Linked DNA regions of Homo sapiens: all the other regions are reported to be linked to region 5. Evidence: microRNA targets listed by miRTarBase, many of them from high-throughput screens and not tested one by one. Region 5 holds a microRNA gene; each other region holds the end of a gene's coding sequence. Distances are from middle to middle.
The links. Region 5 holds the annotated microRNA hsa-miR-942-5p (UCUUCUCUGUUUUGGCCAUGUG, at 3,119-3,140, shown strand). A microRNA usually pairs through its seed, bases 2 to 8, with sites in the 3' UTR of a target mRNA and lowers its output. Matches are read on the target gene's strand: a 7mer-m8 pairs with bases 2 to 8, a 7mer-A1 pairs with bases 2 to 7 and ends in A, and an 8mer does both.

Region 1 (4,000 bases), 72 Mb from region 5:
ATGTATGCAGTTACCAGAACGTGGCGCTGGCTTTGCTTCCAGGGAGTGTGTGGGGAAGACGGTGACATTGCAGGGCAACCTGGACCCCTGTGCCTTGTATGCATCTGAGGTAACAGCCAGGGCCCCTCTGTGTGTCTGTTACTGTGCACTCCTGTGGCTGTGGCTGTATTATTCTGTGTGCACTTGTTTTTAATGTCTGTCTGTCCTTTTCTTCTACTCTGTACAACATAAGCCCTAGAAAGACCGGACTTTTTGTTGCTGTTGTTCATTTGTGTTTATGCTTCATGCCTGGGTCCATACTAGGGATCTGATAAATTTTATTGAATGACTGAATAACACTGAGTAGAAGCATGCCTACATATGCGTTTGTCACTAGTATATATAGGGAGGACAAAGGCTTGCTGGTCCTCCTGTAGCCAGTGCCCTGTTGGTCCCCCAGGAGGAGATCGGGCAGTTGGTGAAGCAGATGCTGGATGACTTTGGACCACATCGCTACATTGCCAACCTGGGCCATGGGCTTTATCCTGACATGGACCCAGAACATGTGGGCGCCTTTGTGGATGCTGTGCATAAACACTCACGTCTGCTTCGACAGAACTGAGTGTATACCTTTACCCTCAAGTACCACTAACACAGATGATTGATCGTTTCCAGGACAATAAAAGTTTCGGAGTTGAACTATTGTGTAGTTTTGTTTGTGAAAGATTGTGCCCATATCCTCAGTTCTTCTTAGCCTCTGCTCCTTCCCTGGGAACCCTCTCTATATCCTCTTCACAAGTCATGGGGGTTAGGTATCAGTGAATATGTACTATAGCACTTAAGGATTCTCATTCCCATCTTACTCTCAGATACCTAAGTCCCAGAACTACATGGGGTAGGGTAGAGCTTTCCTAGCAGTTCAGGTTGTGACATTTGCAGAAAAACGGGTGGGGTCCTCACAACATACAAAGGCCAAATTGATAGGGCTTTATGTCTGGGGAGAAAGGGAAGTATACATCAAAAAGGGGCACAGAAGGGGTTAGAACACTTCAGAGAGGCATGGGGAAGAAGATGGAGTCTAGGCAAGCAGGGAGAAGCTGAGGGACCCTCAGCTTTGACACCAAAATATATAGAGGACATGAAAGCTCAGAGCTAGGTTGCTTAGGATTGGAGCTTTAGACAAGTCGATCATCACCAAAGCAAGAAGTCCTCTGAAACCAAAAGACCCTCTGGCAACTCAAGGTTGCTTTATATTCTTTTCTGAGCATCCCCTTTAATTTTCTCAAGATCTTGGTTATTCCACCCTTCCTGGTGGTACCTGCTTCCCAGGACAAGGCTCTGAGGTGTCTGTAAGCCCTGGGGAAGGGTCTGGTATGGCAAGAAATTCTTTATCTGTCAGTCATTCTGCATCTCCTTAGACCACTAGGCACCCACTGTGCTGTAGGCTGAACCAGCTCCCTGGCCCAGCCAGGGCAATGCAGAAAGGAGAGATGGGTTTCATTTAGTGAGAGAACACAATTTCTGCTTTTAGAAAAATGATCTTTTATGTGATCCATGATTTATTCATAGAAAAGCACTGTGAATTCACACACTTGCTAAAAAAGGGCAACTGTGATACAGAAATGAGAGTGGCTTCTCTCTTTTTTTTAACCAACCCATTGGGCTGAGACGTAGGGGCCCTTGGCTGGACAGTAAGACTTGAGTAGCCACAAATGGCAAATACAACTTCTTGGTCAGTTTGGAGTAAAAAAGGTGACAGTTTGTCGAAGAAAGAAAAAGTAAAGCAGATGGAGAAGTTCTTAGTTCACATTCTAGCTATACCACCCCTTCCCTATCAAACCCCACCCCCAACTCAGGAACTAAGACATGAAACAGTAAACACCAAGACACTGGTTCCAACTGACTTTTCTGAGTGCCCTTGCTACCTCCTATAACAATTCCAGGCTGAGCACAGGGGTCAGGAAGGTAGCAGGAACATGATACACTATGGAGGTCAGCCAGGGCTAAGACAGGACTGCCCACTAGGGCTAGAAATTAGGAAGGGAGAGGCTAAGTGCAGACCAGCCCTAGCCTCCAAGTCAGCGAGCAATGAGACTGTGACAAAAGCCGGCGAGGAAGCTTGAGGTAGAAAGGCAGGGGAAGAAAGCAAGTATGAGGCGAGAAGAGAACTATGGAGCTAAAGCAGCCAATCTGATGGCAGAGGGAGATTGGTGCTTAGAAGCTTGTTTGGTGAGAGAATGAATAGAGGAGGCACAGAGATGGGGAACAAACGTTTAGCTGGCGAGAGAGATTTAAGAGGAATGGGAAAGAGAAATCTGGCAAAAAGGACACATTGATGCAGATCCTCAAACATGAATACACAGACATCCCTACATGTAGAAATACGCTCAGTTACACATATAAAGACACAGATGCATGGATAACAAGCATACACATGGATACAAACATGTTTATACACATGCACTCGTGTACGCAGATACACATACTAAACATGCACAAACATGAGTGCATTTGCACAAAGATGTGCATCCTCACATGTACACAAAATGTGTATATCCTCACGTAGAAACTCACAGTCCAGTGTGCACATATTCAAACAGGTACACAGCCATAGAACTGACACATACACATAAATATATATGTGCACAAACAGGCATGCACAGATGTATCTATGTACATACACACATGTACTTAGCCATAAAGATACACACACACAATTATAGATGAAACCACACACTTGCTAACACAAAGGTGACCACAGTAGATGAATATTATGAACTCAGCGGCTTCCCAGACCTTCATCTTCTCCCTGCACTTGTTTCTCAGGTGTTCAGCAGGCTCCTGAAGAGGCTGTGTGAGGCAGGAGCTTCAATGTCCTCACAGTTTTGTGAGGCAAAAGTCTAAGTCCAGTCCTGGCCTCTGTCCCTCACTCACCACTGGACTATAAATGCCCTGTCTGTAGGTGGGGGATTCTGCATAGACTAGACTTGGGTTGATCCTAACTGGCCATTTTTCTCCTTGGCACCCCCACTCTTCCACTGCTACCAGCAAACACTCTGCAAGGGAAACCTGAGAAATGGTTGTGAGTCTCCTCAGAAAATAAGCATATCCTCCTACCCACAGCTACTTCAAGTGCCCATCAAATCAGAAGCAGAATTATAAATAGTTACAAGTTTACAATAATTAGCAACACATATAGTATTTACAGTCCCACAAATGTGTCTGTTTCTCTGGTTAAGCAATCCCTGAGATGGAACAGTGTTCTGTGTTTGCCAAGGGAGACAGGGCCAATGCTCAGGACACGCAGGATATAGGGGCATGAGGTGGCATGTTGTGGGGTTTCTGGTCGATCTGCAGGGCCCAGCTCCTCCATGAACAGTAGGCTGTAGTCAGAAGCTTGCCAAGGTAGGCATTATCGACTAGAGCTGGACTTTCCCCATCCTTAGCCCTGTGGTCCTTTGGCCTCATCCACAGGTGCTCAGAGTTCTCTCAGGGTGGACAAATGTTTCAGTGCCCTTGGCCTGACCTGATACTACCTGGGAACCCAGGCTGCTCTGGCAGTGAGCTATCTGCTCTCTCAGCCAAAGCGCTCTCGCACCAGCAGCATCAACTTTTTCTTGCCTTTGTAGATCTGTTTGAGGTTGTCGATGAACTGGGCAAACTGCAGGTGGCCATCCTGGGGCAGCAGGAAGGTCTCCCGAGCCTTGCTTAGAAACTCAATGAACTCTCCATAGTGGCGAGGGCTGATGTGTGTTAGGCGTGAGTGTGTAGTGTTGATATAGGCATTGATGGTGGCATCCAGCAACTGGCGCAATGGAGCTTTGTCAGTGGACATGAGCTTTCCAGAGCTTCGGCGGCCTGGGATGCCGGCCAGGCCAGGTGCAGTCACTGTGCAGCGTCGTAAGATGTCTGAAAGCACTGTGGCACAGTGCACACTCTTCACCACCAGGGGGATGAGAGCTGCCAGCTCATTCTTGCCCAGAGAGTGGCTGAGAGCACAAGCCCAGAGCACATCATTGAT
Region 2 (4,836 bases), not on the chromosome of region 5:
AAGTATAAAAATATGTTCTATATAGTGTGTGTATACATAGATATATCTCCTGCTGCATCTGCTTAAAAAGGGAAATTGACATGGTTTTAGGCATCCCTAGCACAATTCCTGAAGCAGAGAGTCACGACTACAAAATGATAATAATGGCTAGCCTGTGTGGAAAGCTTGCTATGTGCCAGACACTAAATGATTTACAGGGATTTTTTCATTTAACCCTTGTTACCAGGGCTGGGACCAGGGTGGGGCAATGAGATATCGGAGCACAAAAGTGAAGGAGGGCCGGGCACAGTGGCTCACGTCTGTAATCCCAGCACTTTCGGAAGCCGAGACAGGTGGATCACTTGAGTCCAGGAGTTCAAGACCAGCCTGGCCAACGTGGTGAAACCCTGTCTCTACCAAAAGTACAAAAAATTAGCCAGGCACCATGGCACACACCTGTAGTCCCAGCTACTAGGGTGGCTGAGGCAAGATAATTGCTTGAACCCAGGAGGCAGAGGTTGCAGTGAGCCAAGATCAAGCCACTGCACTCCAGCCTGGGCAACAGAGCGAGACTGCATCTCAAAAAAAAAAAAAAAAAAAAAAAAAAAACAAATGAAGGAGACAGCCACCTGCGGGGCTATGGAAGTGCAGGGTTGACACCTGCATGCCCCTGCCAGCGAGTGCCTCCTTCGGTTCTGCACCCTAAGTGCCTCACTCACCTTAACCTAGTCCCAGACTTGCTGGCAACAATCCTGTAAGGTCAGTGTCGTCAACTTTCTTCTTTGCAGATGAGGAAGCAGAAGCTTTTAGAGGCTGAGTATCTTGCTTCATGGAGCAAGGATTTGATGCCAGGACATTGGGCTCTAAAGCCTTGGGCCTTGACTGACTGTACCAGACTCCAGTGTTGGTTGTTTTTGTCTCCCTTTCCAGGTGTCCAAGGCAGCTGCAGATTTGATGGCCTACTGTGAAGCACATGCCAAGGAAGACCCCCTCCTGACCCCTGTTCCGGCTTCAGAAAACCCGTTTAGGGAGAAGAAGTTTTTCTGTGCCATCCTTTAAGTCTTTGAGAGGGGCCTGAAGAGCCTCCGGGCTCCTGGGACATTGATGTAGAGTTTTTAGTGAAGTGGGCACCTTTCTAGTCCACGGCATTTGAAGAGAGCGAGGAGAACCATTCTGGAAACTCTAGGCTATGCATGTTTAAAGATCTGGTCCCCTTTATGAGAATGCAAGCCGATCCACATCCTGACTTAAGAGATCTGATTCTGACGAACTGCCTGGAGGAGGGGAATATATAAAAATAAAATTGGTGTCACTTCTTTTCTGCTATCCCCCAGCCCCCCCCCCAAAATCCTCATGTTTCTGCTTCATATTTTGAAAAATAACAATTAAAACAGACAGCTGTACTGAGGTAAGATATGTGTGACCTTCTTGGAATGAATATTGTCTTTAGAATACCCTTTGATAAGCTGAGCTGTCCCGTGTAGATGCAATTCGGTTTAATGGCATTGATGTATAGTCACTGTGCCTTTCTTTTTCTTTCTTCCTTCTCCTCTACCCCTCCTTCCACCCCTCCCCATTAGAGTAGTGTGGAGATAAGGCTGGACTGGTCTATCAGATTGAACTCCAAGAATGATCACACAAAATGTTTAGGGAGATGTTCCCCGTGGTGTATCCTCATGGTAACAACGACAAAAAATGCCGGTTGTCTGTGTTCTCTTTTCACTATTCCTAACATGTGTACATGATAGCTTTGATTCTGCAAGTAAAAGTAAATCCTGTGTTGTGACTGGTGCTTTCATATATTTGTGACAATTTTTGAGTAATATTGCATGAAAATGTCCCTATGTTACATCCATTCAGAAGTTTTGTTGTTTTACTCTAAAGCTGGGAAAGGAAATGAGAGGGAAAAGACCCCGGAGAGGGAAGAAAATCTCAGTATTTTGAAAATTGAGATTACTTCAGAGCCTTAGCCACACCTAAAATACCTCCTAGTTAATAGTGGTATAAATGCCTCTTCAATACGTTTTCCAGAATCCAAAGCATTTTGGTTTATCCAGGACCCAGGGCAGCACAGCTGTCACCAAGCAGGAGAGTTAAGGATTCACCATGAGCTGGGAAATGCTTTTGCCATGAGTATGAGCAAATTCCCTCTTTCCCTGAATCATGGACATTCTAGATTAAAAGAACATTTTTTTGTGCTCTTAACAAGAAAACCATGGCCCTCCTTTGTTCAAGTATCAGAAGAAATAAACCCACAGCTCCAGAGAAGGTGACCATTCTCAGAACTCCAGCTATTCACTCTCCAGGGAGAAGGACCTCAAATCGCCACTCTTTGGGCGGCAGGTGCGGTCCCCACGGCCGGCTCTACGAGGAAGAGTTCTGGCTCTTTTGTCCACTGAGATGGTCTTGGTTTTTCACTTAACAAATTTTTTAATGGAATCTTTGTTTTTGTTCTCCATCTTGTTTGTTAGAGTCTCTCGGCCTTTATTTACAAATTCCTTGCAACTAGAGCGCTCCTTCCCCAAGATATGGTAGTGAGAGTAATTTTTCATTGTAGCTGTAGTCTCCATCAGTAACAGCAGGCCCTGGAAGACTTGATCACCTTTTTCTGTGTCATTTTCAGTCAAAGAGGGCCTCTCTTACATCTTGTTTGCTTTCAAATCCCCAAATATCATCTCCATCTCCCAATTAATTTTATTGTCTCTTTCCTCTCTATTCGCTTTCTCCTGTTTTTTTTTTAAAAAAAAAGCATGAAAAAGGAAGAGAAAAAGTTTGATATGCCAAGGACAGATTTTGAAACAGACTTGGTAAATGTTTTCCTTAGCTCCTTCATGGGCATGCTGGTGAAAGAATAAATACATCCAATTAAAGCTCATGCTGGGGTCGGGGAGAAGAGGATACTGAAACATTTGTGAAATGTATGAATGCACTTCTGTAACCAGATACTTCTGTTCTTCTGTTCAAATTGTGGGGTTTTTGTTACAGTTAGGACGCCCATGAAGATTTAGGGGTGAAAAAAACAGCAGAGTATTTATTAAACTACAGCATTGTACAATTAGCTTAGTAACACTATGGAATAAGCTAAAACATATCACAGTTTTTACATGGGCCAAAACATGAATTGAGTATGTGGTCACATGAAAACACGGATGAATGAATAAAACACTCTTTGGTGGTGACTGAGGCATCATTAGAAGGCCCAGACGATTTCCACTATTCACAGCATTTCCTTTTCTCAGAAGGACTCTTTATATTTCCATGTAAATCTAGATCTTTGGAGCAATTAAGATGGAATTACAATTTCTAGGGAGCATTTTAAGGAAAATGTTTTGGCTTTTTCATAATTTTATGTCTTACAGTATGGAATTATAATACGAAAATCTTTATATGAGTTTTGGCTTCTTGGTATTTGTACTTATTCAGGGGAAAAAGTCTTTCGATTACTTATGCCTCTATAGAGCTTAATTTCTTGAGAAATTCAACAGTCATTTTCACCAGCATAATTTTATCTTAAGGAATAACTAATAGGAAAAGTCAGCTTAATTATTTAAGGCCCTAGTTTCTACATATAATATATTCGATAGAAATGAAAATCTGCCGTGGAATTAACTAATAAGTAGTAACAATAAACTTCATATTTAGAATGCAAAGTCTATAAAGAATAATTTTACATGATCCTCAATATCAACTCCAGTTTAAAAAGTGTTATTTTTAAAACATTTGAAACCAAGTACTGTTTAATTTCAATCAGAAGATGCAAATACATACTTTGATCTATGTTTGATTTTGCTAATAATATTTGAAGGAGATTGCCTACCAAGGACAAAACAATAAATTTAAAAATCAAACGATTTCTCCATACGCTCATAGTCACATATGGAATTTTGAGAAAATAAAGCATGCTGTCTTTAGGAATTTTTATACTTCTTTGTCTTTCTTCCTTAATATTTGCTTCTAGCTGCTCTTGGCAATGATGAATTGTTATGTATGCATTAATGTTTTGCAGCCCAAAAGTTGTTCACATTTTTCCTATATAAGATCTGTGGAGTGTGTGTTTCAAAGAGAGAACTACAGAAATGTTAAAGCAGGAAAACCTGAATGTGATGTGCACATTTTCATCCCACATGGACAATGTATGTGTTTTAATAAATGGAATTTTCAGATTCATTTCATATGCAGTCAATTTCATTGTGACGGCCACTGATTCTGTGGTCAATTTGAGAAGGATCTGATGGTATGAATGGATGAGGAAATAGGAATCCATTGATTTTCTTTAGGATTTTGTTAATAGAGATGTCCGAAAGAAGAAAAAACTCACTTGACACTCTAAAAGCATTTCTTACTAGGTCTGTACATCTTGGGTACAGCCTTTGGGGACAGAGAAAGGTGGGGGCTGTGAGGAGAGCCCAGGGCTCTGATAGGGTGGAGTATGCAGACAGAGGAGCTGTATTTACACTTTCACTTGCTGCAGGTATGCCACAGTGGGCTTTTTCCCTTATGAAAAATAAAGACTGAACAACAGAAGTGCTGTTCTCTGTAGCTATCTGTGATTTAAAAGGAGTACAGGAGAAGCTAAGTCCTTAGAACTCTAGATGCAGCTGCTCCTTGGAGATCTTCTTAGTCGAGAAAGACTTCTGAATGTTCCTCAGATTATGCCAGTAACAGACCCTGTTAGTAAAGAAGGAAACACTGGATCTCCTGGGACTTGTGCCAGCAACAGCAGCATCTTTAAACCACGGATGAAGGGGGCCACTTGGAGTTTGCACACTAGTGCTCCACTGACATCAGTGTTTCTCAGACTGTGGTCCATGGACCACTTGCTCCAGGAGTATTAATACCTGGAATGCCTCTTTACAA
Region 3 (4,836 bases), not on the chromosome of region 5:
CCTAGAGGAAGACGCTGGCCAGCAGTAGGTGGGAGGGGCCTGGGAGAGGGCGGGCACCAAGGTGGGCGTGTCAGGTCCGTGAGCCTTGGGCCTCGCAGCACGCACTGGCCTGCTCATGCCCAGAGCCCACCACCTCAGAGCCCGGGCCTGGCCGGGGAAGGTGGAGGGCACCCATGAGGCCCCCATCCTCTCTCCTGACACTCCCAGTGCAGTGGGGAGACAGATGACAAAGCTGTGATACATGTGTACTCACAGACCTCGAGATCTGTGCAGCGAGTGGCCCAGGGACCCCTCCTCAGCCAGGGCGTGCTGGGAAGTCCTCTCTGCAGAGTGATGCTGAGAGCCGAGAGACAAGGGGAGCCAGTAATACAAAGAGGGGGGCTGGTCGTCCCAGGAGGGAGGGATGGAAGGTGTCAGGACCAGATGTGGGGAGTAGGCATGAACCCGGTCTAGGCACAGGAGAGGAAGGGGGTGGCTTGGACATATTTGGAGGCAAAACCCATAGCTGGCGGCAGAGGGAGGGGCAGGGAGAAACAGGTGGCTGGGACCAGTTTCTCATGGGGATCTGGGCACATGATGGCCCCCAAGACAGAGACAGGAAGAAGTACGCGTGGGGGGCCCAGTCTGGATATGCTGAGTGGGCGGTACCCCACTCCAAGTGTAGTGCACAGAGAAGGGCTGGAGTTACAGGCCTCCTTGGGCAGGGGTCTGAGACAGCAAGGAGCTCAGGGGGAGAAAGGGAAGGAGCAGCCTTCAAGAGAGCCTGGAGGTCAGAGCGGAAGACGTCCATCCCCAGGTAATGAGGGACTGGGAGGGACAGTCAGACCAGGTCTGGGGAGAAGAACACCAGGAAGGAAGAACAGGTGGGAATGGAGAAGCAGCTGGGAGTGGTGGGGGGGTTGGGGGTTGAGTGTGGAGGAGCTGGGAGTGGTAGGGGTGCTGGGGGTTGAGTGTGGAGGAGCTGGGAGTGGTGGGGGAGCTGGGGGTTGAGTGTGGAGCAGCTGGGAGTGGTGGGGGTGCTGGGGGTTGAGTGTGGAGGAGCTGGGAGTGGTGGGGGTGCTGGGGGCTGAGTGTGGAGCAGCTGGGAATGGTGGGGGAGCTGGGGGCTGAGTGTGGAGCAGGGGACTGAGTGTGGAGCAGCTGGGAGTGCTGGGGGAGCTGGGAGTGGTGGAGAAATGGAGAATGAAGAAAGGATTATCAGGGAATGGGGCATGTCCACAGGTGAAGCTCTGGTGACCTGGACAGGAGGTGAGGAGGTACCCTGGAAGGAAACAAGAGGGACAGGGCAAAGGGGTGGGGCATGTGGAGACCAGAGAGGGCTTCAGGAGAGGATAGCCCAGACTCTGATGGCACCAACAGGAAGCAGCTTGGTGAGGGGCCGCCTGCCCGTGGTCAGCCCCAAAGACAGTTCTGCCACGCCCCCTGGTGGCAGCACCTAAAGCCACAACCACGTTCCAGGGTGCACAGCCTGTGGGATGCAGAGGCCTCTGGGATGGCAGGACGGGCTGGTCCCGGGAACCATGCATGTCACCAGCGCCCCTCCCTCCCCACGCCCTGACCTTGAACCCCTGGTTAGCTCCTGTTCCCACTGGACCCCTTGTCCCCTTCCTTGATCACTTTATGCATGCCTGGCACTGCCATCCTCCTTCCCAGCATGTCCACACCCCCACCACTGCCAGGGGGACTCCATGGCTCACCGGGCCACATACTGGCTGCCCCCACCTGAACTCCAGGACGAGGGCATGCTCGTGACAATGCCCTTGGTACCTGAAGGTGCCTGGCACGCAGCAGCCACGGAGTCACTGTCCAGTGAACCCAGGACCAAACTCTCCTGCAGTGAACCCAGGACCAAGCTCTCCGGTTCTGTCACGGCCCCTCTCTGGGCTTCCCAACGTCCCAAGATCTATTTCTAGGGCTGGGGTTCTGGTGCTGCGCTGCCCGGAGCTGAGTCCCAGCCAAGCCCTACAAGCTGCAGGGCCCTGGGGGGAGCAAAGCCTCATCTGCAAGTGGGGACACTGAGGACCCACAGGGCCACCTGGGCTAAGGGCAGATGCAGGTGAGGACAGGCCTGGCCCAGCAGAAGCACCTGCGTGTGGGGCGCCACACTGGATCACCTCAGAGAGAGCGCGCAAACAAGCACGCAGCCAGTGCCTGCAGGAGGCTGAGAGGCTCTGGGGACAGTGCCACCGTTCCAGGCCCGAGCGATGGTTTTGCGTATTTGCTTTGTGGAAACCCCAAAGTGAATGCTTGTGACTTGTGCACTTTTCCATACACTCACACACACGTGAATAAACATGCGTGGTATACGGGTACCCCCCCTCCAGCCATGCAAAATGTGTCCCTACCAGCCTATGAGAAAGGGGAGGAGCCCCACCTTACCCTGGACATGGGAGGCTCCTCCGCTGCTGGGGACAGGGTAATCCTGGCCCCAAGGCGAGTGCTGTGGGCGTTTGCAGCGGGCGTGGGCGCCCGTGAGGACTTCCTGAGGCCCGGCCTCCGTGGGAGGAAGGCCACTGGAGAACCCAGCTCCCACGGAGGAAGAACCAGAAGTGTCCGGCTGAGACCCGATGCAGGGTGCACCGGGGCCTTCCTGCCTTACCCATGGGCCCCCCACGCCCTCTCAAGGCGGTAGAATGAATCCGCTGATTCCATGCAGTGGGTGGGGAGGGCCGAGGGGGTGTGGTGGGTACCAGTGCAATTGAGGGTTCGAGTCTTGTGGGACCAGGGCCTGCACCCCCATTCCGGGCCCAGCACCTGACACACAGGGAGGTGCAAACCAGACCACACGGAACAGCCACGCCAGCAGCCAGAGTGGGCGTTTCCCACACCGCCACCCAACACTGGGCAGCTCCTGCCACCCACCCAGCGTGGGGCCTCTCAGGCTGGCCTGGCCCTGGCTGCTCAGGCAGAGACAGACCCAAACAGCAACAGATATGTGACACTGAGTGAAGCGTGCAGACACCTGACTCCCACCCCAAATGTTTTCTTCCCCAAACAACCCTGAACACACAGATGAATGCAGCACAAAGTCTAACGCCAACACACTTTATTTCCCTTCGGACGCATCTGCAAGCTTCTGCCACACCTGAACCCACGGCCTGGCACCAACGCTACCATCACTCCCCAGAGGTCAATCCTGGGGGCTGAGGGGCTGCAATTTCCCTTTCTTCCTGAAAATTAAGAGAACTGAGACTAATTGAAGAAACCTCACTGCCATTCCTCACTCAGCAGTCTCAGCAGGTCTGAAATGTGGCTGTGGGAAGTTGCCATTTTGGGAAGGCGTTTATTCTCTGCGGCTACAGGGATTGCCTGCTTTAGAAATCCCCTTACGCTGATTAACTCAAAAGTCCCTTCAGAGTCAAGAACCAACCTTTCATGGTCCATAAATGTGGTATTTCTGGTTTCCTGATCAGGAGGCTTGCAAACCTAAAAATGTTCTTCCTTCCAAAAACTAACTAACCTGAAGTATAAAACCTCAGACGGCAGAATTTTCTATTTCTGGAAAAGCTGGCTGCGATTTGTTTTTGGGACACAGTGAGGCAAGTCCCTGTGGCAGAGAACGAATTGGCCCCTCGGCCTCTGTATGTGAGAGCAGCCCAGCCACACCCAGGAAGAAACATCCCCCATGCACTGCAGCACATCCTCCTTAGAGAGAGAACGCCTGCAGGTTTCGGCAAAGAAAAAAAAAAAAGGGCCTGCCAGACTCCCAGCTGGATGGAAAGCAGCCGACAGCTCCTCAGCCAGAGGGTGAGGCCAAGTCCTGGCGCCTAGCTGGGCCCCGTCCATGCGCGTCACTTTCCAGTGAGTTCCAGCACCTTCCTCACCATGGCTCCGATCCCATCATGGATGTAGTGGAGTGCCGTCTCGCACATGAAGGCTGGGGTCGTGACCACCTTGTTTTTCTGGTCCACGTGAGCTTCGTGTGCAGAGTTACGGAAAAAGCCACCCAGCACGGACCTGAGGGACTTTCAGGTGTGGAGCCCCGGCCCCTCCCCCACCCTCACCGCGTGTCCTAACTTTGTTCTCAGATAACTTGGAAGAGGAGAACTCGCTCCTGGTGCAGTCTGTGCCGGCAGGACCCTGCTTTCTGTATGATTTATGCTGCTGAACAACATAAGAAGGAACCTGTTCCCAATTCACATGCATTCTAGAGGAAGAAAGCAGCGGGAAATTCCAGGGAACGGGGCACCTTTCATGCCAGCATCACACAGGCCCAACACCCACACATGGCCACGAGCTGCCCCGCCATGGGGGCGCACACATGCCTGGGGTGCTCACAACCACCACGGGAGGCAGTGGCAGCACCTCCGCTTTTCAGATGAAGAACTGGCCGTGAAGGAGCCGGTCCTCATGGGGCAGGGCAACAGGCAACAGGGCAGCAGGTGGCACAACTGGGGCCGGCCAGCCACAGACCTGAGCCTCCCCAACACCATGCATGTAACCACTGGCCAGGCCTCCACACCACCCAAGACACGTGCCCCTATCTTCCTGCAAGCAGTCAGAGGCCTGGGGCCAGCCTTGCACTGCGCTCCTGCCCAGCAGGAAAGCCGCAGGGAGGGAGATGGGGCCTGACGTCTGAAGCTGCCTGTGAGAAAAAAGCTGCCCCATTGAGAGGAACTGCACCCTTCAGAACAACACCTGCAGGGGACCGGGTCCATGCTCTACTCATTCCAGTGCCTTCCGGCACCCCGGAGTGTTCTGTTCTCTCAGTTGGGCTCACATGGACATTCTCCCAGATCCAGGCAGGGCCTTCCAGGAGCCTCCCTCCAAATCTCCCTGGGCAACAGCCCCGCTGGTGTTCTTGGTCCATCATCTCAGAACTCAGGGTACACACCT
Region 4 (4,836 bases), not on the chromosome of region 5:
GTCTTGAACCACTTTCTCTCATCATTATTCTTACCAGGAGACTTTGTGTGGTGGTGTGTAGGCAGAGCAACAACATTGGGCATGGAGTCCAAAGACCCAAGTTCATATCCCAGCTCTGAGCTGCTTACTCCTGAGTAGCTACTGAAAGACGTTTGAGCCTCTGTTTTTTCAACTTCAGGGAAATATTTGACTTGCCTGTTTCACTCATGTGCTGTGACTCCCTGGGGAGGAGAGGAGAAACTTCCAGAAAATATGACATGAATAAAAGGTTATTGAGATGTTACTTGGATGACTTCCTCAAATGACAAGTATGTTGATGACACAGGGGAAAATAAAAGCAGCCAGCTTTTCAGCACACTCATTCTGACCTTATATAATTTAACTGGTTGCAATTGCCCCAGATTTGTTCCAACCTTAGAAGAGATTAAATGTATGGATTTGTGGTATCACATGTCATCCCAGCCAATCCTGACCCATATTTCTGTCCATCTGGTTCATGCAACAACAGTACAAAGAGGTGTTATAACCTTAATTGCTTGCAAAGTCTTTTGAAATCCTTAGATTAAAACCTCGGTGAAGTCCGAAGTATTAGCATCCTGAATGCCCAAGAAGTCACGCTGAGCCTTGTCTGGGTTCACTGGAGCAGGCAACAAGGTCTGTTGTGAGGCCTGCTTCAGGAACTTTGGGGTTTAAAGTCCTATTCATGGGATGGCCAGAGACCAACCCCCAACTTCTGAGTTCCTAAGCTACCCAGGCATTTGGCCATTTCCCACGTTGCTTCTGAGATGACTTTTACATTTCTTAAGTTCCTGGGTCACAAGGCCTGAGTTGCTCTAACTTCAGTGTCTGCTTTCCTGGCCAATCCCAGCCTGAGTCCTAAAAAAGGGTAATTGTGTCATCACTAACTTCTGTCTGCCTCTTCGTATGAGTCCAGAGTTGATGAATTGGTCCTCATCCTAACTTATACAGGTTAGAATTAAAATCCCATCCCATGGTGGTTACGCTTAGAGCAGGCACCAGGCAAAAATTGAAAAGGGCAGGCAGAGGTTCCTGAGGCCCTCCCAGTGTTTTGCTTTCTAGATCTATTGGTTATGCCTGTGTGTTGTTTGTGAAAATTTACTGAGCTACACACTTATATGTGCATTTTTCTGTTGTTACATTTTACAATGTGAAGTATTTTTAAAAATCAATCTGGATACAAATTTACTTCATTTAGACTAGATTCTGAAGTGAAGCTATAAATAGTTAAGCTATAAACAATAAAAAACTCTTTTCCTTTCTCTACTTTTGTGATTCAAATTAATGTCACCTTAGTATTTTCCTTGCTTTTATTTCCATTTTCACACTTATGGAAAGAAAAAAGTAAAAGAAAGAAAATGCCTTGCTTGGCCGGGCGCAGTGGCTCACGCCTGTAATCCCAGCACTTTGGGAGGCCAAGGTGGGTGGATCATGAGGTTGGGAGTTCAAGACCAGCCTGGCCAATATGGTGAAACCCCGTTTCTACTAAAAATACAAAAATTAACCGGGCATGGTGTCGGGCGCCTGTAGTCCCAGCTACTCAGGAGGCTGAGGCAGGAGAATCACTTGAACCTGGGAGACAGAGGTTGCAGTGAGCCGAGATTGCGCCACTGCACTCCAGCCTGGGCGACAGAGCAAGACTCCGTCTCAAAAAATAAGAGAAGAAAAAAAAGAAAATGGTTTGCTTAGCCATTTTAATTAAGTCTAATGAAGAGGGATTGGTTCACAATCGGAAGTCCCATGATGCCTTCAGAGATCTGTGTGAACCTCTGCAATGATAACAAAATTTTGTTTTATACATGTGACACTGTTCTCAGGAGTGGTCATAGCTTTATCAAATTCTCAAGGGTCCACGGCCCAAAAAAGACAAGCTGATTTTTACAACTCAAGGTTAATTTATGAATGCTCACCTTCAAACGTTTCTTGATTCTGATTCTGCTATGAAAGAGTATAAAAAATAAAAAATGTTTCCCGAGTCTAAATTCAACCCAAAGCACGTATCAACACCCAATGGGCTTCATCCATCAAAATAAATTTGCCCACTGAAATGAGAAAAGCAAATGGGTTCAAGTCTGCCAAAGGTCATCGATGATCCTCATCATCTCTACTTTTCCACCTTCCCCTTGCTGCTCACCCCCAACTAGACTGTAAGTCCTGAGGCCAGAGACCTTTGCAACCTCTGCATGAAATTGCAAAAGGCAAAGCAGATGGAACTCGAAAGAAATTCACCACACCTATTTACGAAACCAGGTTTATTAAAATTTCTCTACAAGTCAGAAACGGCCATCTCACTGTTCACATATATACACGTATGTACAGGAAGAACCTAGTGTTTCTAGCTTTCCCGGCAGAAGGCCCTGCCAGCCCAGAGTCCTTAGTCGGATAATGTATCACAGATACAACAGTCGAGCAACCACGAGAGCGTTAGTGCGACAGAGGCCTCTGTCCTCCCTCTTCTCAAAGTCCCATGATTCTGTCAAGGTAATATTGCCAATAATCATTCACATTTCACGTGGTTTTAGACACGCAGGTTATTCAGACAGACACAGACAACAAAACAAGCCTCAAAGCCAGAACAAAACAAAACAAAACAAAATCGAACATAGGTATAAAAGGTAAAATATATGTACAAAGTACACAGTACGTGAGGTATACACGGCATTCTCACAATGCATGTTAGTAGTTTGCCTAGGCATAGCCCTTAAAGATGACTGCCTGTTTTTGTGCCATTTCTCAAAATACAGTATATTTTGTTTACCCGTTTAACCACCTGATTTCAGCACTGTCCAAGACAGTTACTGATATTTCATCTGAATTTGTTTTTTAATGAAAGTTGCAATTTCTCCATTAAGCTCCATCTTTTGTAGGGGAGTGAGTTTCCATCTCTGGACATATCTAACAGAGGCTGGATTCCCACCTACAAAAGAAGCTGAAGAGGGGATTTCTGCCTTGGGAGGTGGCAGAAAGAGGAAAGAGATTGGACCGGATGATTTTTAAAGTTCCTTCCAACTTTGAAGATTTGGGGTTTGCTGTTTCACTCCAGAAGCCGATTATACAGACGTATTCATAAACCACACATTTGAAATATTAACAACCCACCATGCAAAACTGCAGATGTACACACAATGCCAAAGGCGGACCATATCTGGGAGGGGTTAAAGTATAATTCTGGAAGTTAGTCTGAGAATCACAAGACTATCCAAAATTCACTCTCTTCAAAGCACAAAGATGTTTAATGTCTGCTCTTGGGAGAGGTGGGTGGGAGCCTCCTTATCTTTCTTCTCTTAGACAGAATGCTCCACCCTGAGATGGTCTTGGGGAAAAAGTAAAGGGTAGGTACTAACATATTTGGAAGGAACTTAAAAAGCTAATAGTTTCCAAGCACTCAAATTATTTTTTAAAATCTGGAGTCTCTCTGAGCTCAGAGTTCTGAAATCGTTGGGAGATGGAATCTTTTGTGATACTGTTCCACGTTCGGCTGGTAAGTGCTTTTATAGCTAAAGGGGGAAGTGTCAAGGTCAGGGAGAAGGCATTAGTGCAGATGAGGTCTTGGCAGGAAACAGAGAAGAGTCTCGGTTCATGGTTCCATCAGGCTCCTGAGCAACTTAAAACAGTCTGCTCCAAAAACGGAGCAGAGTCATTGGTAAATGTGAGTGTGAAGAAAGGGTGAGTGTTAAGCCAAAAAAGGAACTTTCCCATCAGAGAAGCTGCCGTAGCAGTCTAGCCACCAAAGATGAGTTCAAAGATGGCAGATTTATTGGCCCAATTTGTCACCCTGTGAAAAATACGGTTATTACTCAAAATATGTCATTGTGCGATTTGCTTTTTCTCCCATTCGAATGCTCAAGTTTATTACACACTTGACCACCGGGTGTAAGATGTCCATACTCTGCCCTCCACAAAAGATGCGGAACTCCCAAATCCAGCAGAGATAGTTGGTGAGGGTTCCTTAAGGGAAACAAATTTGCAGGGCAGCCAATCACAGCATATGCTGCTCAAATCAATAAAGTCACTCATCCCAACAGAGAAGAGGAGGCGCCATGCCGAGTTCAGCAGCTTTCATCCTGATGCAGTCATTATCTGGTTGGTACCACGCCAAAGGGCCTGTCCATCTTTAGAAATGGAAATGCCAGGTGTTAAGAATTATGAGGTTTCTGAGGTTTTGGGGATTAGCAGAAGAAGGAACTAATGTCACTGTCCTCCTGGTACTCTGGAACAATCTGGTCTGAAGTTCCTATTTCTGAGTCGATGTACCCGGGTTCCAAGACGGACTCAAACCAGGGGTGCAGTAGGATCTCGGGGGCAGTGAGTCTCTCGGAGGGCTCCCGTCTCAAGAGGCTGCGAATGAGGCACCTGGCTTTGGGGGAAATGTGCTCAGGAATGCAGAACTGTCCACGCCGAATTTTGGAGAAAAGGGCACTGGGGTCTGAGTCATGGAAGGGGTATCGTCCAACCAGAAGGGTGTAGAGCATCACCCCCAGGCTCCAAACGTCCGCAGCCTTTCCGGAGTAGGTCCCAGTGGTGTTGAGGATCTCAGGGCTCACGTAGGCTGGGCAGCCATGTTTGTCTGACAAAGCATCATCTTCCCCCTTCATTATGTGTGTGTCTTCTAGACTTTCTAGTCTAAGCTGGGTTCTGCAAGAGAGAGGAACCAAGCCATTATTTCCACACCAGCTGCTATGAAAAACAAAGCCTTCCCAATAACAGCGCCCACAGGCACTAACAGCAAAGGCTCCAGGAATGCTATTTACCCCTTCGTCCAGTAAGCAGTGCCCTGCAACTACCGAGGGCTCCTGATTTCACAAACTAACACGAACT
Region 5 (4,836 bases):
ACCAGAGTAAAATCTACTGATTGCAAACACGAGATCTGGTGTTTATTTAGCTTCTTTTTAATTGTTTCCTAAATCTGCTTTATTAAAATGCAGGTAGTTCTATAAGGAAAAACCGATATTTCATTTGGCCTAATTGAAGTGGCCTATAGAAGTGAGTTGTAACTATATTATTGAGTCTGAGATCAAACATGGTTAAAGTAGCCCCATGTAGTTCCTGGCTCTCTCCGTATTTCTCTTTTAAATCCTGTACCATCCTGTGGCTTGTCTTCCCTCTTGGAAGTGGCACTGGAGTTTGGGTCTGAGGAGCCTAGACACTCGGAGGCAGCAGACTCACCGAGATCCAGCACCGTCCACATACTGTCCCAGTTGCTGAGACTCCGCCAGTGTTGCTGTCATCTTTCTTTACTGAAGTCGGTAAGAAAAGCCCTCAGCCTGCTGTCATATAGTGCTCCAGAGGGGCCACCTGAGAAGTCAATTTCACTCTCCTCCAACTGGAATCCAGTCTGCTTGATCAAAGGAAATGCTGTTTCGGTTTTTCTATTTTTGTTTTTTGGTGGGTTGGAGAAAAGGGGGCTTATTTATTTTGCTTTATTTCATATTAATCTTGATAATTCCTATGGCATCAAGAATAGTGTATTTCTATTGTTTATTTTGTTTTAGATTAACTGTTTAAGAAAAGAAAATGATATTTTGTTTAAAAAGAAGCCATTTGTGAATGCTCTGGTACTTCAGAATGTCATAAAGCTAATTTAGTTCTTGGGGTTTTCTGCTTTCAGGCAGTTTTGGGGTTTTGGGTTCCAGTTATAAAAACTCAGATAGTTATACAGACTGAAAAGTTGCCCCTACCTTGGATAGAGGCACATCCAAAATTAAGAGGAGTATTCTATTCATTTAAGGAGCTGTAATAATGTATTCTGATTATCAACATCTCAATTATATTCTAGCTTGGAAAAAATAGAATGATTATGTCATCTGCCTGGCAAGTCTTTAAAAAGTTCCATCATTTGGTTTATCTTTAATGTGGTGAAAAAACTTGCAAGATCACACTTTAATCAAGGTGTCTTGAGGAGTTACTGATGACAAATTACAAGATATTTTGCTCTGTGAAGTGGTAAACAATCAAAACATCATCAACAAGTAACAAGGTTTGCTCCCTTGACTCCCAGCTGCTCCTGTCCTTTTTTGTCTGTTCAGGCCCTGGATCCAATGGAACTGAAGGGTGAAGGTCTTGTCCTTTCCCTGGAAGAACAGCTCAGTGCTTTGACCTTGTCAGAACTCCGTGACTCAGAGCCATCTTCCACTGTTTCCCTTAACGGCACCTTCTTCAAGATGGAGCTTTTTGAAGGCATGCGAGAGAGCACCAAGGTACTTTTTGTCTCCTCTGTAGTAGTCGAGAGACTTCGATTCCTCACACATTTTCCTGTGTGACAGCACTTCATTTGTCCAAGTGGGAACAGCCATTTGCCAGCAGAGCTAGAGCCGTTAAATTCTAGCTGATCAGATTCTCCCTCCAGTCTTAAAGCTTCATTTATTTCACAGATAACACTAAAGCCTTACTACATAGGGGACTTTGAGAGAGTAATTTGGGACAACCCCAGCATTGCACTGAAGTGGGTTTTCTGTCATGGGTCACTGGGGAGCTTGCCAGGTTTGTGCTAGGGACGGGGCCTATGCAAGTGAGCAATTTGTTTAGAGAAAGCTTAAAAGGAAAACAAAGGCTTGACTCTAGAGACTGTGTCATACATGCGAGCGCCAATTGCTCTGACTTTGAAAGGCTTCCACATGTGAGTAGTGTTTCCTACATAGCCTTCTGTCTTCATTAGTCATTCTGCTCTGTTTTCGTCAGAGCTTTTTAAGGCAGAAACATTCTGCTGGAGGAAGGCTTAGATATGCCGTAACCTGAATCCTGCCTGTCTGCTGGCTCGGAATGTGCTTCATCATCCTGCCTGTCTTGAAAGTGAGGCTTGTTTCTCTCTTAGCATCTCAAGCTGCCGTTCTTGGGCTCAACCTCTCTTCAAAGGCTTTTTTTGAAAAAGTGTATTAATAACTAGAAAGGTCACTTCCAGGGGAATGGCATTATTTTTTAAAAGGAATGCTGCCTTTTAATTAAAATTTGAAAACATTTACCTAGGTCTTTACCACTGATAGCTGAGAGAAACATAAGAAGAGCATCCCATGTGGCCAGAACACACATGCTAGTGCCTTCAGAGTGAGCTATTGGGCTAAAATTTAAATTCCTAATCATTTGTGTTCCTTGTTTAATTAAATGCAGGTAATATTTATTCACAAGTTTTCTTAACATATGTCCATTAATAGTTCAAACCACATACGGTTGTTTCAAGTAGGGAAGGAGGCTTCTTACTGGAATTTGACCCCGGCTCGTGGGCCATAAATCCAGCCCTCCTGCTGCAGTTTTCTCAAAACACCATGGCTAGCTTTTTCATGTGGGAGTCACAGCGCCTTCCACAATCTCAAGTTGCCAAGACACCAGGCACATCAGTGTCTCTGTTCTATTGTTAACTAAATAACAGATGTAGCTGCTTTTCTGTCTGCTAATTTGAATGGTACAGTTCTGTGACTCACTTCCTGCCTAGGCACCAGAATGTTTGTTAAGATTGGAAAGCAGCCCCATGTGGTGACCACTGTAATGACATCCTAGAATGTGGGAGCTCAGGGCACCTCAGAATTTATCTGGCCTAAGTCCTTCTTTTCACTGATGAGGAATCTGAGTCCCAAAGTGGTCCAGCCATATGAGGACAGAGGAAGAACTTCTGTATATTTGTCTCCTGATTGACTTACAGCCCAGTTTTCTTCCTTCTCCAGCATTCTGGGGGTGAACTCTGGGGCCCTTAGAGGCTCTTGAAAGGTTTTTCACATGAGCAGCTGGGAAGAATGAGCCCAGCTGCACTCCAAAGTCATGCCCCACGTGTTCTTACTGACAGCTCCCCTGTGGACTCAAGTGCACCCTAAGGGTTCTTGGGGAATACCCAGGGAGCCTGTTCGGAAGCTTTAACAATGGTTCCTCCGTCTGGACAGGTCCTTTTCAACAACATTTGGAGCAGGCCATAAAGTGGGTAAAGCTCTTTCACTTTCTTCTTCAGCAAACATTAGGAGAGTATCTTCTCTGTTTTGGCCATGTGTGTACTCACAGCCCCTCACACATGGCCGAAACAGAGAAGTTACTTTCCTAATATTTGCCTCCTTGGAGTGTCTCAAGTCCTGGAAGCAAGAGATAATAAGCAATTAATATACAGTATGACAAGGACCGTGATAATAGAAACAAAAGGTGCTATGATAGTACTTGGGCAGTGGGCACCTAACCTGTACTTTGGGGGTTGGGAGGACCTCCAAGAAGAAGTGACATTAAGCTGACACAAAAGGGTGTTCTAGGCAGAGGGAGCAGAATGGACAAGATGGCCAGTGTGTGATTTATGGGAAGAATTTTGGTGTGCTTGCTGTGTCGTTTGAGGAGGGCATGGTGAGAAACGAACCCAGAGAAGCAGAGGCTGGAGCAGCAAGAATCCGGCAAGCTGCCTTGAGGAGCTTGGCCTTTATCCTCAGTGGGAAGCTATGGAAGGGCTTTAGCCAGAGGGGTGAAGTGACAAACTCACATTTTAGAAAGAGCTTTCTGGCTGCAGAGAGGAGGGTGGAATAAAGACAGGTGAGGCCAGAGCACAGACGCCATGTAGGAGGCTGCTTCGCATGGCAGGTGAGGGGAGATGGAGAAAAGTGAATTGCTTAAACATACAATGTTGATGTAACCTTTTCCCAGATTTCATCTCTGTTGGCAGAATTGGAGGCAATTCAAAGAAATTCAGCATCCCAAAAGAGGTAACTGCGTTTTCTCATTATCCAAGTATTGGTCATAATTATGTGAGAAAATTTGATATTGCCAAGAGTTATAAATCAAGGACTGTGAGTCATGCTCAGCAGAAAGCACTGAGGTTATAGCACACATTCCCTGTGATTTCTAATTAAAATATTTGTGGTACAAATTGAAAAGGAGATCCCTAGAGGATCAGGGTAAGCGAAGCATCTGAAAAAGTGTTTAAAAGTAGAGAAGCATATAAAGAAAAGCAAGCGAGTGAGGAGGCTCCAGCAGTGCTGATAACGTTCTTAAGCTGAGTACTTGGATACAAGGACTCATTTGTTATACCTGACATATGTGCTATACACCTGCATTATTTATAAAATAATTCAATATAAAAATTTAGAACTCGAATTAAGACAGCGTGGGGGCAGGGAGGAGCCTGTTGTTCTGGCTGGCACAAGAAGGGTGGTCAGTGTGTCCCTTTTGTGCAGGACCACAGATTTCTGGATGAGCACTAGGACCCCAAATGAAAGAAGGCTGGAGTCATCACTTTACTCTAGCTACCATTTTTTTCTGACTTCATTTAGCACTAAATAAATTGTAGAAAGGACCTAGAAATAACTGGAAGCATTATAATCTTCAGATATGACCTAAATGTGTGCCTTCTCCCTTAGGTAGCAGAAGGCCTTTCCTTGTCAACATTTGATAGCTAACCTTAAGAATGATGAGGGCATTAAAGCCCTGCAGATGAGTCTGTTTAATCTATGTTAGGGTATTTTTTTATTTTATTCTTCTTTCCAGTGTCATTGTCTCTCAGTGGACCAACATGCTGAAAGTTGTAGCATTGCACCTGAAGAAGCATGGACTGACTTATGCCACCATCGATGGCTCTGTCAATCCCAAGCAGAGAATGGACTTGGTAGAGGCATTTAACCACTCCAGAGGCCCTCAGGTACAAGCTGGTCACATCAGAGCCGCATAATTAACTGTTCTGAGTTATACAAAGAGAATTCTTTTTGTTTGGT

Region 1: miRTarBase lists ZSWIM5 as a target of hsa-miR-942-5p. Seed matches in the 3' UTR shown: 7mer-A1 at 2,781-2,787 and 7mer-m8 at 1,612-1,618.
Region 2: the mRNA of GNG2 is a reported target of hsa-miR-942-5p. Seed matches in the 3' UTR shown: 7mer-m8 at 2,242-2,248 and 7mer-A1 at 2,868-2,874.
Region 3: the mRNA of GATD3 is a reported target of hsa-miR-942-5p. The part of its 3' UTR that is shown has no 7-base or 8-base seed match.
Region 4: miRTarBase lists TRIB1 as a target of hsa-miR-942-5p. Seed matches in the 3' UTR shown: 8mer at 3,296-3,303 and 7mer-A1 at 2,471-2,477.

The regions. Positions count from the first base shown.
Region 1 is chr1:45,014,898-45,018,897 of GRCh38, forward strand. ZSWIM5 (zinc finger SWIM-type containing 5) reads right to left here. Exons shown (of 14, transcript NM_020883.2): 14 at 1,502-4,000. The coding sequence ends at 3,557. UROD (uroporphyrinogen decarboxylase) reads left to right here. Exons shown (of 10, transcript NM_000374.5): 9 at 43-109; 10 at 440-678. The coding sequence ends at 601. Among named protein-coding and RNA genes, the nearest start is that of UROD, 4.6 kb to the left of the region's middle.
Region 2 is chr14:51,965,650-51,970,485 of GRCh38, forward strand. It overlaps GNG2 (G protein subunit gamma 2), which reads left to right. Exons shown (of 4, transcript NM_053064.5): 4 at 910-4,146. The coding sequence ends at 1,038. Among named protein-coding and RNA genes, the nearest start is that of RTRAF, 21 kb to the right of the region's middle.
Region 3 is chr21:44,143,905-44,148,740 of GRCh38, reverse strand. It overlaps GATD3 (glutamine amidotransferase class 1 domain containing 3), which reads right to left. Exons shown (of 7, transcript NM_004649.8): 7 at 3,030-3,920. The coding sequence ends at 3,792. Among named protein-coding and RNA genes, the nearest start is that of GATD3, 13 kb to the right of the region's middle. RefSeq lists an enhancer at 1,879-2,538.
Region 4 is chr8:125,435,823-125,440,658 of GRCh38, reverse strand. It overlaps TRIB1 (tribbles pseudokinase 1), which reads right to left. Exons shown (of 3, transcript NM_025195.4): 3 at 2,256-4,653. The coding sequence ends at 4,188. Among named protein-coding and RNA genes, the nearest start is that of TRIB1, 7.9 kb to the right of the region's middle.
Region 5 is chr1:117,091,537-117,096,372 of GRCh38, forward strand. MIR942 (microRNA 942) reads left to right here and starts at 3,107; the gene lies at 3,107-3,192. TTF2 (transcription termination factor 2) reads left to right here. Exons shown (of 23, transcript NM_003594.4): 17 at 281-414; 18 at 1,195-1,365; 19 at 3,773-3,831; 20 at 4,613-4,763.